Regions from separate parts of the Homo sapiens genome. Here all the other regions are reported to be linked to region 4. The links are microRNA targets in miRTarBase. Many come from high-throughput screens and were not tested one by one. Region 4 holds a microRNA gene; each other region holds the end of a gene's coding sequence.

Region 1 (3,000 bases), not on the chromosome of region 4:
GGAAGCAAAGCTGGCAGCAGGGCCAGCAGCCGCCGAGGCAGTGATGCATCAGACTTTGACATTTCAGAAATCCAGTCCGTGTGCTCAGATGTGGAAACTGTCCCCCAGACACACAGACCTACACCCCGAGCAGGTTCTCGGCCATCCACAGCGAAGCCTTCAAAAATCCCCACGCCCCAGAGGAAATCACCTGCCAGCAAATTGGACAAGTCCTCAAAGAGATAGTGCAATTGGTTCTACCAAGGCCCTTCCTTGAGCATTTATTATTTAAGTTTGAACGATGTAAAATATGGTGTAGAAATTCTTGTGAAATATTGCAAGAGGCGAGTTTAAAATTCTGCAGATGGCCTTATTTGTGTATTTGTCTTTTTATTTTATCTGTATAATTTTTTTTGTCAGATATTCTGGGGTTAAAGTCACATCATATGTGAGGAGGAAAAGTTTAACATGAACTAACATTTCTGCACTGTAACGTGCCGGGCACACACTAAACTCAGTTACTGTACCTACAGGTAAGTCTACATCCTCTCTGACAGCCACAGCACTACATCAATCCCTGACGTTAGGGATACCTCATGACATTTTCCTGTTTTTATGGAAACTCTGAGAAGCTGAATGATACATGCAGGGGATATTTTTTGAGATGATTTAAATGTAAACCAAAAGATGGAAGACAAAAAGACAAACACACCCACACGCAGTCTTTGCAGTATCTGACAGAGAACTCACAGGAAGTTACTTCAAGCACTTGCCAGTACTATGATATTCAAGTACCTTGCAGCATTTCTCTGCCATTGCTTTCAATGAGGCCAGAGGCATCCTGGATATTAGACCTATTATACTGTAAGAATATAAGTATAAAGTGCGTTCATATACATGTGAGGTTTTCTTTTGCTTGAGTGGACAGTAGCACCTGTATCATTGAACTCATTTTGTATCAGAGCAATTTTGCTTGCAGAAAGCTATGAAATAAAACACGTCCCTTAACTGCATTGCTATGGAATTAATTTTTTTTCCCCAGGGAAAACTAGTGTATTTTTTTATGAGCAATATCAATTTGGAGTGACCAAAAGATACTTAAAAATGGGTTTATTTTGATTTCTCATCTGAAATAATCATGTTCTGGTATTATATCTATCTATATTTAATAAATATATACATTTTAATTTATTATGTGTACTCACATACTATAGAAAGATATTAGTATGCATTTAATAAAACATATTCACTTGAATATATGGAATACCTGATTATTTAAAGTGAACTTCTTCTATTATTTGTTTTAAATAAAGGTTATATGTATGATATATGTTTACTAAGAAACAAATAGGGTAAATTTGGGGGACATCAAAAACAGGGAGTTATAATAATGTTAACCACTCTTTCAACAAATATTTCTAATAAGTATTAGCCATGCACCAGCCATTGTAAGTGACATGAAACTATAAGGTTCCTGCCCTCCCCTCTTCAAGAGGGAATCAGTTAATAAGTCACTAAAAAGCAAGGGATGTGTGGCAGGATTACAGATTTAATTAAGGTAATATAGTAGTATTCTTCTGGCCTCTGTACATTTAAAAGTCAAATTGTAAAATTTTCCTGAATATGAAAATAGTATCAGATATCCTCAGAAGGATGGCAGGTTGTAACTTTAGGTATGAGGGTCCCAACATTCTGCATAACTTTGTGGATTTGCTGTAGCAAATGTCACTGATGGTGTTCAGATTCAAGGGAACATTATTACATTTTTCTTTCTTGGCCTTTTCAGTGGAGGCCAACACTGAAGAGCCTGGAGTTTCTATTGGCATAAATTAGGTGCTATTTTTAAGCAATAGTAATCCCTTCTTTGTCCAGGCATGGGTCTCAGGTGGGAGCCCTTGATGAGAAGGGGAATTCTAACCTATGAGATCACATGCTATTTAGTTCATGCATTTGATTATTAACATGTCATCTTAGAAGGCAATTGAAATTGTTTTTATTCCTTTAGTGCTTTGCATATGATCACATTTCCACTTCAAAGACAAATTTAAGGCAATGATTTTTATCTCAGTCTGTTTCTATGCTACCCCTCCGAAAGAGCTAGGGGTTTTTCTTTTTAAGTAGTAAAATAAGCTTTTTGGAAAAGATAAGTGGTTTAAAATAAGAGAAGTCTTAAGGAACTGCTCCCAGTTGTCAGTATTTGCCCCAGGTGAGCTTTTCAAACTTTGACATGATGCCTACTCATTTCTTTCCTCTTGTGCTAATAGTCCTAGAGCCTCAGGCTGACTTCTCTAGTGTCCTGTAAGTTTCAGTTAATGTAACAGAAACCTCTTCCCCACCCTACACACATTCCTTCTCTTTTCTTTTTCTCTTTCTTTTTTTCGTTTTTTTTTTTTTTTTTTTCTTTAAAAAAAAGAACACTACAGTGAATCTCAACTCTAAAAATCTTAATTGGAAAAATTGAATCTTAAGCATTAGGGAAGTTGAATCGTGGACTTTTTTTGTTTTAAAAATCAAAGCTCCTAATTCGCATGTACTGCTACCTTCTTTGGAAATAGTGGACTGTCCTCTTTGACATCCGTGCAGAAGTAGATGGGCCTGGCCAAGTCTCGGATATAGGTGGGAGAGTTTGGGAAGTGCCCCCATGGCTGTCCGGGATTGACCTGTAAAATGAAAAGGAGGCGGAGGAGAAGAAAGGATCTTGTTTCCTTTTTTGGATCATTTTAAAAGTTGCTTTCCGTATTTGTAGTAAGGGAAATTGTAATGAGATACAGTTATCTATTCCTTTTTGACAAGGTGCTTTGAAATGTGTGTTTTTATTGTTAAATGGTGATCTGATACCACCAAACAGTACATTTGCCATGCCTGCTTGTCTGTGTATGTCTGATGCCACTGCCACTGGGGTCCCACAAAGAAGGCAAAGACACTTGAGCTTTGTCTTTTAGTATAATACTTTAGTAACTAAGGTCCTTTCAGGCATGTTGAGGATGGACTTGTCAGTTACCAAAATCTGCTTGGAAGTCA
Region 2 (3,213 bases), not on the chromosome of region 4:
AGCAAAGTAAGGTAATAAATGCTGGAAAACATCCAAATTCTTTTTGTATGGAATTTGGCTAAAAGAACCCAGTGCTCAAACCACACTGTAAGTTCATGAAACAGAGAAAAACATGTACCCTAAACCTAGGTTCTGAATCTTTCGCATATTTTAACGTCAGTTCTGTTTATGGAATTTGGGTCTGTTTTCCTGGTGTGGAAGTGTACTTGAAGTAGGGTGAAACAAAGGCAGGTTGAGATACCTGTGATTAATAAAAGTAAAATAATTTCAAGTCAACTTAATTCATTTCTCCAATCTCATAGTGCACACCCACCAGGTTCTTTAATTATGGAAAGATGGTCTTTCTGCATCCAGAGAAAACATCTGATATTACACTGAAAATTTAGTGAAATCTATAAAACACTATTACTTTAGGTCATCCAAGAGGGCAGGAAAATAACTGTTACAAAAAATATTTTTGTATTTTTGTAATGGGATTTTACCTATAACAATGGTAAAAGCTCACATTTACTGAGTGACCAGTATGTGTCAGATAATTAAGAATTTTACACGGATTGACTTAATCCTCCCAAAAACCCTATAAATTAGATGTGATTACCATTATTAGCCCTGTTTTATAGATGGAAAGTAAGCTTGGGTAATTTAAGCTCATTTCCATTCTACAACAGGATTCAAACATGAGGTGTCAGTTAGCACGCTTAATCTCCATGCTACACCGTGTTCCCGTCTATGTAGAAAGATGAGTATCTTCCCACCTATGTAGAAATATGAGTATGCTCCATTCAGGTAAAATCCCATCTCCTGTCAGATTTTTCTCTCTTGCAGCTCATTTAAAATACATCCTGAAAGTTATTTGATCATAAGATGTAATTCCTTTAAAGCATAGTTTTTGACTTAAAAATTAAATATTTTCCCTATTACATTTTTAAATTTTTACTATCTCCAAAAATGTATAAAACATTTGAAACATGTTAAAAACAGAATAAGACAAAAAAATTCATGTTTTAAAGGAACATATCTGGTTAGCTGGTATTCCATTGAAAGTATCTTATAATAAACACAAATTTTAATTTTTCATTTAACAACACTAAAGAATGAGGTATATAAATGTTTTAATCACAGACTTTTACTGTATGCAATTAATTGTATTTCACAACTAGCATCTTACAAAAAAGACAGTACCACTGTGCCTGTAAAAAGTACTGTAATTAAACAGAAAATTACATTACCACATGAAACCACCAAATATCACAACTGTTAGGGTCTACAGTTTTATTTTTTCTTCAAATGTTATCATGATGTCTTATGTGATATTTTGCATCCACATTCTATTTTTAAGTTCATTTACAATTCAGAAGTCTCCTTTAGGTAGATATATATTAAGCAAATGGTTAAGAGAAAGCAGGAGACCCCAGGAGAATTTAAGTACTGTGTGGTTTCTAGGTTGAAATTCTAAATACAACATAAAACTCTTTAAATAGTTGTAAACAAAAATGCAAAATCTGTAGTCATAAAAATATTTTATTGGTAATTTTACATAGTATAAGTGGGGCTATACTTTTTTCCTTTCAGGATACTGAGAAATGTGTAAACTGGCAGCTGTGTCTGAAAATAGGGTACTATGATTTTCATAAGAATTATTGTATTTAATAAGAAGCCAATTTGACTGATTTAAAATTAGTTATTTCCCATTTCTGTGCAATAATTCCCATTTCTGTTTTAATTAGATTCATACTTCTATGGCCCTGGATAAGTTTGGGACAAGAAAACAATGATAAAACTATCATTAAGTTAAAGCTTTTCTAAAATTGCAGCTTGTAAAATATGGCAAGTTTCTTTTCTCTTGTTTTTGCCAAATGCTTATAATTATTTGAATTTTAATGTTTTATATGATACAGAAAATACCAGTGTTCAATGACAATAGCACTAAACCTGAATTATAAAGCTAAATAATCAATGTTTTATTGTTTACTAGTCCGCTAGTAAACATTACAATAAATGAATGTTTTGAAAAATAAGCAAACAAAAAAACCTCAAAAAATAGATAAAACCAGAAACATAATTCAGGAACAATAATTAGTAAAACGTGTCAAAAACATTGGCAAAGGTTCATACAAATTCTTTATTTAATAACAATTTTCCTATTTAACCACACCAAGTACCAGCAGGTGTATTTAAGAGGATAACCATTAAGAAAAACCTGTTGCAGCAATAGTTAAGTTGTTCTTTGACTTGTATACATATAACTATCTGTTTCACAATTCTCAAATAATACATATTTAGGCAGCTTGCACTATGTTATAAAAAATTTAAATTCGTTACATGCCAATAGTAGAGAATTCAAGAATTATGTGTTAGAATTCACTAAACTAAAAGTGAAAATACACTTACCAATAACACTGCATAATGAATAATTCAACCACATTTTCATGGCACTTAACTGCAGAGACCAAAATGTTAAGTCTGGAAATGTTTGGTAGGCATCATTGCAATAAAATCTAACAAATTCTAACAAATTTCTATTTTATGTAAAACTCAAATTATGGATTGTGCATGAATGTATCTGTCATGAAAATGTGGTACCTCTTGGCATAATCTGTGTATTTGCATGGTAGGACAGAAGTGACTAAGAAATTGGAGAAAATAAACTTTAATGAGATTCTCCATTCAATGATGAGGCTTCTCCTCTGGGTGAAGATGACCTGGACATTCCTCTCTCTGTGTTATCAGAGCTAGAGCCGCTTTGACTGTGTTGATCTGCAGAAGCAGCACTAGATGCAGGCGGTGACTTTGTTTTCTCCTTAAAGTCTGTAATAATGACTGTCAGATCTCCAACAGTAACTTCCAAATGCTGAGCACTACTCCGATCCACATTTTTCAATCTTGGCCTAAACATAAAAAAATGAAATTTTAAACTAGCTTTTCCCTCTACCAAATTTCTGAGCATATAATAAATAATAAAAGTGGTAAAAGTAACAAAATGAATACATGTATTTAAGGCAATTTATGTGTAACTAGCCACAAAAACATCATAAAATGTTTCAACTCATTAACATTAATCAAACCAATCATTCATGAACATTCTTCAATGCAACCAAAAAACTGTGACAGCCTAGAAGTAGAACTTGTGCTTCTATAGCTGTATCATAATTTTGCAGACAGCTTATTAATTTTATTAAAATAGATGTTTTAGACAACAATGAAATAGTTGCA
Region 3 (3,213 bases), not on the chromosome of region 4:
CCTACAGGACTGCTGAACAGAGAGCCCAGTGTGACTAGGGATCCTGAGTTTTCTGGGACAATTCCAGCTTTAATCAATACATTTTGTTAAATGTGCCATAAAATGAGACTTTTTACGCCTTTATAAGGCCTTAGATGTAAATAAACTCACCCAAACAAAAAAACTTTTTGAGACTACTTTTGAGTTTGTTTTTTGAGACAGTCTCACTGTGTTGCCCAGGCTGGAGTGCAGTGGTGCAATCTCAGCTCACTGCAGCTTCCTCCTGGGTTCAAGCAATTCTCAGGAGGCTGAGGCAAGAGTAGCTGATGCTACAGGCATGCACCACCACACCTAGCTATATGTCTAATTTTTTGTATTTTTAGTAGAGACAGGGTTTCACCATGTTGGTCAGGCTGGTGTCAAACTCCTGACCTCAAGTGATACGCCTGCCTTGGGGCCTCCCAAAGTGTTGGGATTACAGGTGTGAGCCACCGCGAAAAACAGGGGGCCTCACTTCAGAACTGGTTTAGCATTTACCAATTAAGAACATCAGATGTGCACTCCAGCCCGGGTAACAGTGAGACCCTGTTTCAAAAACAACAGAAAGAACACCTCCTGAGAATTGGCAAATTAAGGTGGTTTCTGGGAGCACAGCCAAACCCTAGAAAAACATTCAAGCTAGAGTGAATGTGCCACTTCACCTATCTCCTGGTTTACCAGGGAAGTTCATGTTGCTATTGACAGCTCCAACAAAGAACAGTAGCAATTCCTGTGGGCCAGGCCCAGCAGCCACACACGAAAGACACTGTGAGAATGGTATGGGCTGCCTAGTCTGGGTATGTCAGGAATAGAAATCCTTTTCTAACTGGCACACCATTTCAGAAAGCTTGAAAGACCAGAATCATCAGTCACATTTCTTCCTGTTTTAGTCCCGGGTGCTCATGAAGTAACCCTGGAGTATGTCACTGGTTTTAAGACTAGGTTGAAAAAGGCAGATGGGTCCCTTTCTGTACGAAACTGAGATTTTTACTGACATGCAGATGTGCTTTAGAGTTAATGTTTCTACAAAAAGTTTCTATAAACAATAGAAAATTTCTAGCATGAAGTCACAGGATGTTAAAAATATTACAATGCAATAAATACAACTACATCCTCCACAGCCCCAACCAGACAGGAATAGGCAGCTATCAGGTTTGGAGGGAAACACTCTTGAGATCGCCTTCACGATCCACAGAAACCCAGAGCACCACACAGGAAGAGGGAGCAACACAAGACTCCCAACTTCTGCTTCCCCAGCTTTGCTTCTTCTCAATCTGACCCTGCCTGTGGCCCGCACCAGCTAAAAACTGTAGCTTCAGTCCACTTCGGCTCTCGGGGAAACCCTCTTGTCAGTGGACTGGATGGACAACAGGTCTGTTTTTGTGCAGAGCACATGGACACACTGGTTTCTGTATGGATTAACTCTGCCTTACGGCCAGTAATAACCTCAGGGCCAGGTCCCGTATCCATGTCCTCTCTTTACAGGGCCTTTCAGTGACCTCTAGAATGGACTCACAGTACAGGTTGTGATGTGAAGGCATGTATTCTTTTGGAAATGGCCTTTGAGAAAAGTAACCAGGGACCTGAAAGACCATGAGATTGTGGAAGGCACCTGGACTTAGTCCTAGGAGAAGACCAGCGGCTTTGCTAGCTGCTCATCACAGATGTAGCCTAGTTGGTCTGTATTATCCTTGGATGACAACGGTGTCATGTGACACTATCTAGGGTACTGTGGCTCTTGTGCCTGAGTGGACCTTGAGGCTGGGGAGGCCAGACTGAGGGGTCATTCATGGAAGGGCAAGATGTGTGAACTCTAAAGGGGATGTTAGCACTAAAGACTTCCCAGCCCTGGTCCTTGGAGGTACTATACTTGATACTGTGCCAAGTTTAGCAGTAGCCTGTACCATGGATCCCATCAGGTGACCAGATTCTTGCCCAAAGCAAAGTTGAGAGAACTGACCAAGTTCTCTTCAGCACTTAGCACCTAACCCAGACATGCCCCTTAGGGAGTGGGGAAAGTTTCCTGCCAGCCCAGCAGCAAAAGGGCTCAGTGGGAGTTGGAGTGGTCCAAGAGAAACTCTGGCACAAGTAGTTGAGGGCTGTGCTCTTGCTGCGAGCCTTGCTAGTCGCAGGGTTGGGCACAGCACCCTTAGTTACCATTCTGTACAGGTATGTGGCTGCACGGGGGTGGGAGGGCTTGTGGGAGAAGGGCTGCTCTGCTCTAGCTTTTCTTGGAAAAGCCAAATCTCCAAGTAGAATGGGAACTATCTGGGACATCTAGACAGAATAGTTTAAGCCCTAACTCCCTTTCTTGATACTTTAGTATAATTACTTCTGGTCCTGCACAGGGCCTGTTCTCTCCAGCTCCAGACCTGGATCTCTTTCCAGGCTGACAGTGGTGGAAAGTGAGGTGGCAGTGCAAGAAGGGCCTAGAGATCGGCTACAAAGGGAAAGAAGAGATGACAAGAAAGGCCGAGGAAGGATGCCCAAAAGCTTGATTCAGGGTTCAAAGATGGTGGCCAGGCCACCCCCATCATTGTCCAGCACCTCCGTCTCCAGCATTGGCTTTGTTTTTTTGAAAAGTGAGGGAAGATTCTTAATGTGAACTTCTTTTCGGAACTGCTCTCCCAAGGGTTTCTGTGGAAAACAAATGAGAAAGAATTAATGCTGGGCCCTCAGTAGTAGTTAAAAGATTCTCTTGGCCCGGCGCAGTGGCTCGCGCCTGTAATCCCAACACTTTTGGGAGGCCAAGGCGGGTGGATCACCTGAGGTCAGGAGTTCAAGACCAGCCTGACCGACATGGAGAAACCCCGTCTCTACTAAAAATACAAAAAGTAGCCAGACGTGGTGGTGCATGCCTGTAATCCCAGCTACTTGGGAGGCTGAGGCAGGAGAATCGTTTGAACCTGGGAGGCGGAGGTTGTGGTGAGCTGAGATCGTACCACTGCACTCCAGCCTGGGCAACAAGAGTGAAACCCCATCTCAAAAAAAAAAAAAAAAAAATCTCACCATAATGGTCAATAACTACAGCTGGTTTATGGTTTGCCCATACACATGATTTAAGAAGGGGGTTGGGAGCACTATTGAAGGTGCATGACCTACCCCAATGCAACCAGCAATGAGGCGTTTGAATTGGTCCTTTCGGCGCTTGTCAGCCACTTTCTGCAGGGAGGGGTTTAAAAGCTTGCAGTCAAA
Region 4 (3,213 bases):
TATTAACTCTGTTATATTTGCTTCCTAACAACTTTGCTGTAAAATTGAGGGATCATTGTTTGGTGAGTTGTTTTAGGTTATTTCAGTTGGTGTGATTTCATTTAGTTAGCCTACTAATCCTGAAAATTTCTTGAATCCTTCAAATAATGGCTGTCACCATTTATAGCTTTCCTATAGAAGGAATTCATGTGTCCCCTGGTTGACTTAAGGACCAAGGGTCGAACTGCTCGATAAGTGGATTAGCAGGCGTTTCCTCTTTGACTTCCAGCCATGTAAATTGAACTTAATGTTTTGCTGACCATAAATGTGTGGCCCTAGCAATGGTCTTTTAAAACTCAGGATTTTTCCTTTCTCTCTCCTATTATTAGACTTATTCGTCTAATGGAAGAGATCATGAGTGAGAAGGAGAATAAAACCATTGTTTTTGTGGAAACCAAAAGAAGATGTGATGAGCTTACCAGAAAAATGAGGAGAGATGGGTATGTGTGAGCTCCTCCATTGAAGCAGATTGATTAAAACAGCTTAGGAAAGGGCAAACTTGGATCACGAGCAGTGGATTTTTTTCATATCTGATAGTGAATTTAACTTTTTCATTTCTGGCGAAATTAAAGAGATCTGTGACCAAAAGTGGTCAAGCACTGGAGTCTGAGGTTTTCAATGTGAGTTTAATAACACAACTTGTCTTTTAACTTAGGTGGCCTGCCATGGGTATCCATGGTGACAAGAGTCAACAAGAGCGTGACTGGGTTCTAAATGGTAAATATTTCAAATGAAGTATTTTTCCCCCTTACTTAACCTAGCTAGAATTCTGCTCAGATAATTGATCATGTATATGCCTTCCTTTGTAGAATTCAAACATGGAAAAGCTCCTATTCTGATTGCTACAGATGTGGCCTCCAGAGGGCTAGGTTAGTACAAACTCGCATTCATGGCTTGGTTTCCCAGAAGATCTCCATTTAACTTTTTTAAAGAAAGTTTATTGCTTTCTTTAACCTGCATTTTTTCTAAGTTTTTTTTCACATAAAGGTGCTGTCTTTGTGGCAAGGCCTAGGCATGACAATCGGAGGACTCGAGGGGGATGGAGGACTAGTGATCGGCTGGCTGCTTCCAGTCGATTAGAGAGGTGAAAAAGCTGAACGTGTGCCAGTAATCTTCAAAAGGCAGAACATATCACCTCTGCCCCGTAAACTGTTCTCTCCGAGGGAAAAAATGGAAGTTATCCTCACAGTTCACTGCCGTGGTATTTCTTCTGTCCCATGCTTTGCATGACTGCCATGGTACAGCCTTGTTTCAAACTGTTCACTGTGATCTGTGGGTCTTTGAGTTTCAGTGAGTTTGCTGAAATGTCGAAGAAGTAGTTCCAAACTTCAATGTTCAATGAAATTTTTGTTCAAGTTTGAAATGGAGAGAGCAGCTTTAAAAGGTACTAAGCCTTTTACAAATTGGTGAGTACTGGCACATGAGATCTAGAGCAGGAGCAACTTCTCACACATAGTAAGTGGGAAAAGAAAGTGCTTTGAAAGTTCCTCCCTCACCTACACAGTAGTCGTCATGTCGAGACCTGCCAGAGAGAGACACATTCTCAAGTGAATCCTGGCTTCTTGGAAGCGCTTGCCTAGACGAGACACAGTGCATAAAAACAACTTTTGGGGGACAGGTATGTTTTCTTGCAGCTGCGGTTGTAAGGTCTTGGCAAGACAAGCAGTGTGGCCAGAATTTTGAACTTCTGATGAATGTGTAATGCAAAGGACCTTGTACATTTTTTTGTTTCAAGGTCCTCAAAATGAGCACATGAAGAGGTTGCTGTGAAACTTTAAGTGGCCCTACTGCGCAGAAGCATTCAGATGTCACTTGATGATCTGTAAGGGAACTTGCTGATTTGGGAATGTGCTTAGGGAACACACATTCCTTTTGACAGGGTCTGTCACTGGGTGGGTGATGAATTATACAGATGACATGTGCTTTTTTTTCTTTTTTCAACCTCAATGGTATTCCTACAGGAAATGGATAACCATTTTAACTGTATTTTTTGCAGCCCGTACCTTCTTGGGAATACAATTGTCTAACTTTTTATTTTTGGTCTGGCTGTTGTGGTGTGCAAAACTCCGTACATTGCTATTTTGCCACACTGCAACACCTTACAGATGTGGAAGATGTGAAATTTGTCATCAATTATGACTACCCTAACTCCTCAGAGGATTATATTCATCGAATTGGAAGAACTGCTCGCAGTACCAAAACAGGCACAGCATACACTTTCTTTACACCTAATAACATAAAGCAAGTGAGCGACCTTATCTCTGTGCTTCGTGAAGCTAATCAAGCAATTAATCCCAAGTTGCTTCAGTTGGTCGAAGACAGAGGTTCAGGTAAGGATGACTGATAGGAAATGTTGGTAGTTACGAGTCACATCGTTGTCTACAAATCCATTTAAATGGTATTGGAGGGTGAGTAAAACCTTGAATGTGAAAACTTAAGCTGAAAAATTGTAAAAACATTTCACGCCTACCATGAATAGATCTGTTTCTTTCTGTCCACAATGATTTGTGTCATAGACATAATTGATCAATTTGCAATTGTTTTCTTGACAGGTCGTTCCAGGGGTAGAGGAGGCATGAAGGATGACCGTCGGGACAGATACTCTGCGGGCAAAAGGGGTGGATTTAATACCTTTAGAGACAGGGAAAATTATGACAGAGGTTACTCTAGCCTGCTTAAAAGAGATTTTGGGGCAAAAACTCAGAATGGTGTTTACAGTGCTGCAAATTACACCAATGGGAGCTTTGGAAGTAATTTTGTGTCTGCTGGTATACAGACCAGTTTTAGGACTGGTAATCCAACAGGGACTTACCAGAATGGTTATGATAGCACTCAGCAATACGGAAGTAATGTTCCAAATATGCACAATGGTATGAACCAACAGGCATATGCATATCCTGCTACTGCAGCTGCACCTATGATTGGTTATCCAATGCCAACAGGATATTCCCAATAAGACTTTAGAAGTATATGTAAATGTCTGTTTTTCATAATTGCTCTTTATATTGTGTGTTATCTGACAAGATAGTTATTTAAGAAACATGGGAATTGCAGAAATGACTGCAGTGCAGCAGTAATTATGGTGCACTTTTTCGCTATTTAAGTTGGATATTTCTCTACATTCCTGAAACAATTTTTAGGTTTTTTTTGTACTAGAAAATGCAGGCAGTGTTT

The links. The annotated mature microRNA hsa-miR-5047 reads UUGCAGCUGCGGUUGUAAGGU and lies in region 4 at 1,668-1,688, shown strand. An mRNA with a match to its seed (bases 2 to 7 or 8) in the 3' UTR can be bound and repressed. Matches are read on the target gene's strand: a 7mer-m8 pairs with bases 2 to 8, a 7mer-A1 pairs with bases 2 to 7 and ends in A, and an 8mer does both.
Region 1: the mRNA of DST is a reported target of hsa-miR-5047. The part of its 3' UTR that is shown has no 7-base or 8-base seed match.
Region 2: the mRNA of YAF2 is a reported target of hsa-miR-5047. Seed matches in the 3' UTR shown: 7mer-A1 at 2,204-2,210, 8mer at 1,809-1,816 and 8mer at 820-827.
Region 3: the mRNA of XPO5 is a reported target of hsa-miR-5047. The part of its 3' UTR that is shown has no 7-base or 8-base seed match.

What each region holds. Positions count from the first base shown.
Region 1 is chr6:56,456,230-56,459,229 of GRCh38, reverse strand. DST (dystonin) reads left to right here. Exons shown (of 104, transcript NM_001374736.1): 104 at 1-1,234. The coding sequence ends at 225. Among named protein-coding and RNA genes, the nearest start is that of COL21A1, 210 kb to the right of the region's middle.
Region 2 is chr12:42,157,939-42,161,151 of GRCh38, forward strand. It overlaps YAF2 (YY1 associated factor 2), which reads right to left. Exons shown (of 4, transcript NM_005748.6): 4 at 1-2,888. The coding sequence ends at 2,651. Among named protein-coding and RNA genes, the nearest start is that of GXYLT1, 15 kb to the left of the region's middle.
Region 3 is chr6:43,521,351-43,524,563 of GRCh38, forward strand. It overlaps XPO5 (exportin 5), which reads right to left. Exons shown (of 32, transcript NM_020750.3): 31 at 3,121-3,213; 32 at 984-2,655. The coding sequence ends at 2,518. It overlaps POLR1C (RNA polymerase I and III subunit C), which reads left to right. Exons shown (of 9, transcript NM_203290.4): 9 at 1-163. Among named protein-coding and RNA genes, the nearest start is that of POLR1C, 5.9 kb to the left of the region's middle.
Region 4 is chr17:64,499,705-64,502,917 of GRCh38, reverse strand. It overlaps MIR5047 (microRNA 5047), which reads left to right and starts at 1,605; the gene lies at 1,605-1,704. DDX5 (DEAD-box helicase 5) reads left to right here. Exons shown (of 13, transcript NM_004396.5): 9 at 369-479; 10 at 695-756; 11 at 849-908; 12 at 2,145-2,369; 13 at 2,592-3,213. The coding sequence ends at 2,995. It overlaps MIR3064 (microRNA 3064), which reads left to right and starts at 2,079; the gene lies at 2,079-2,144.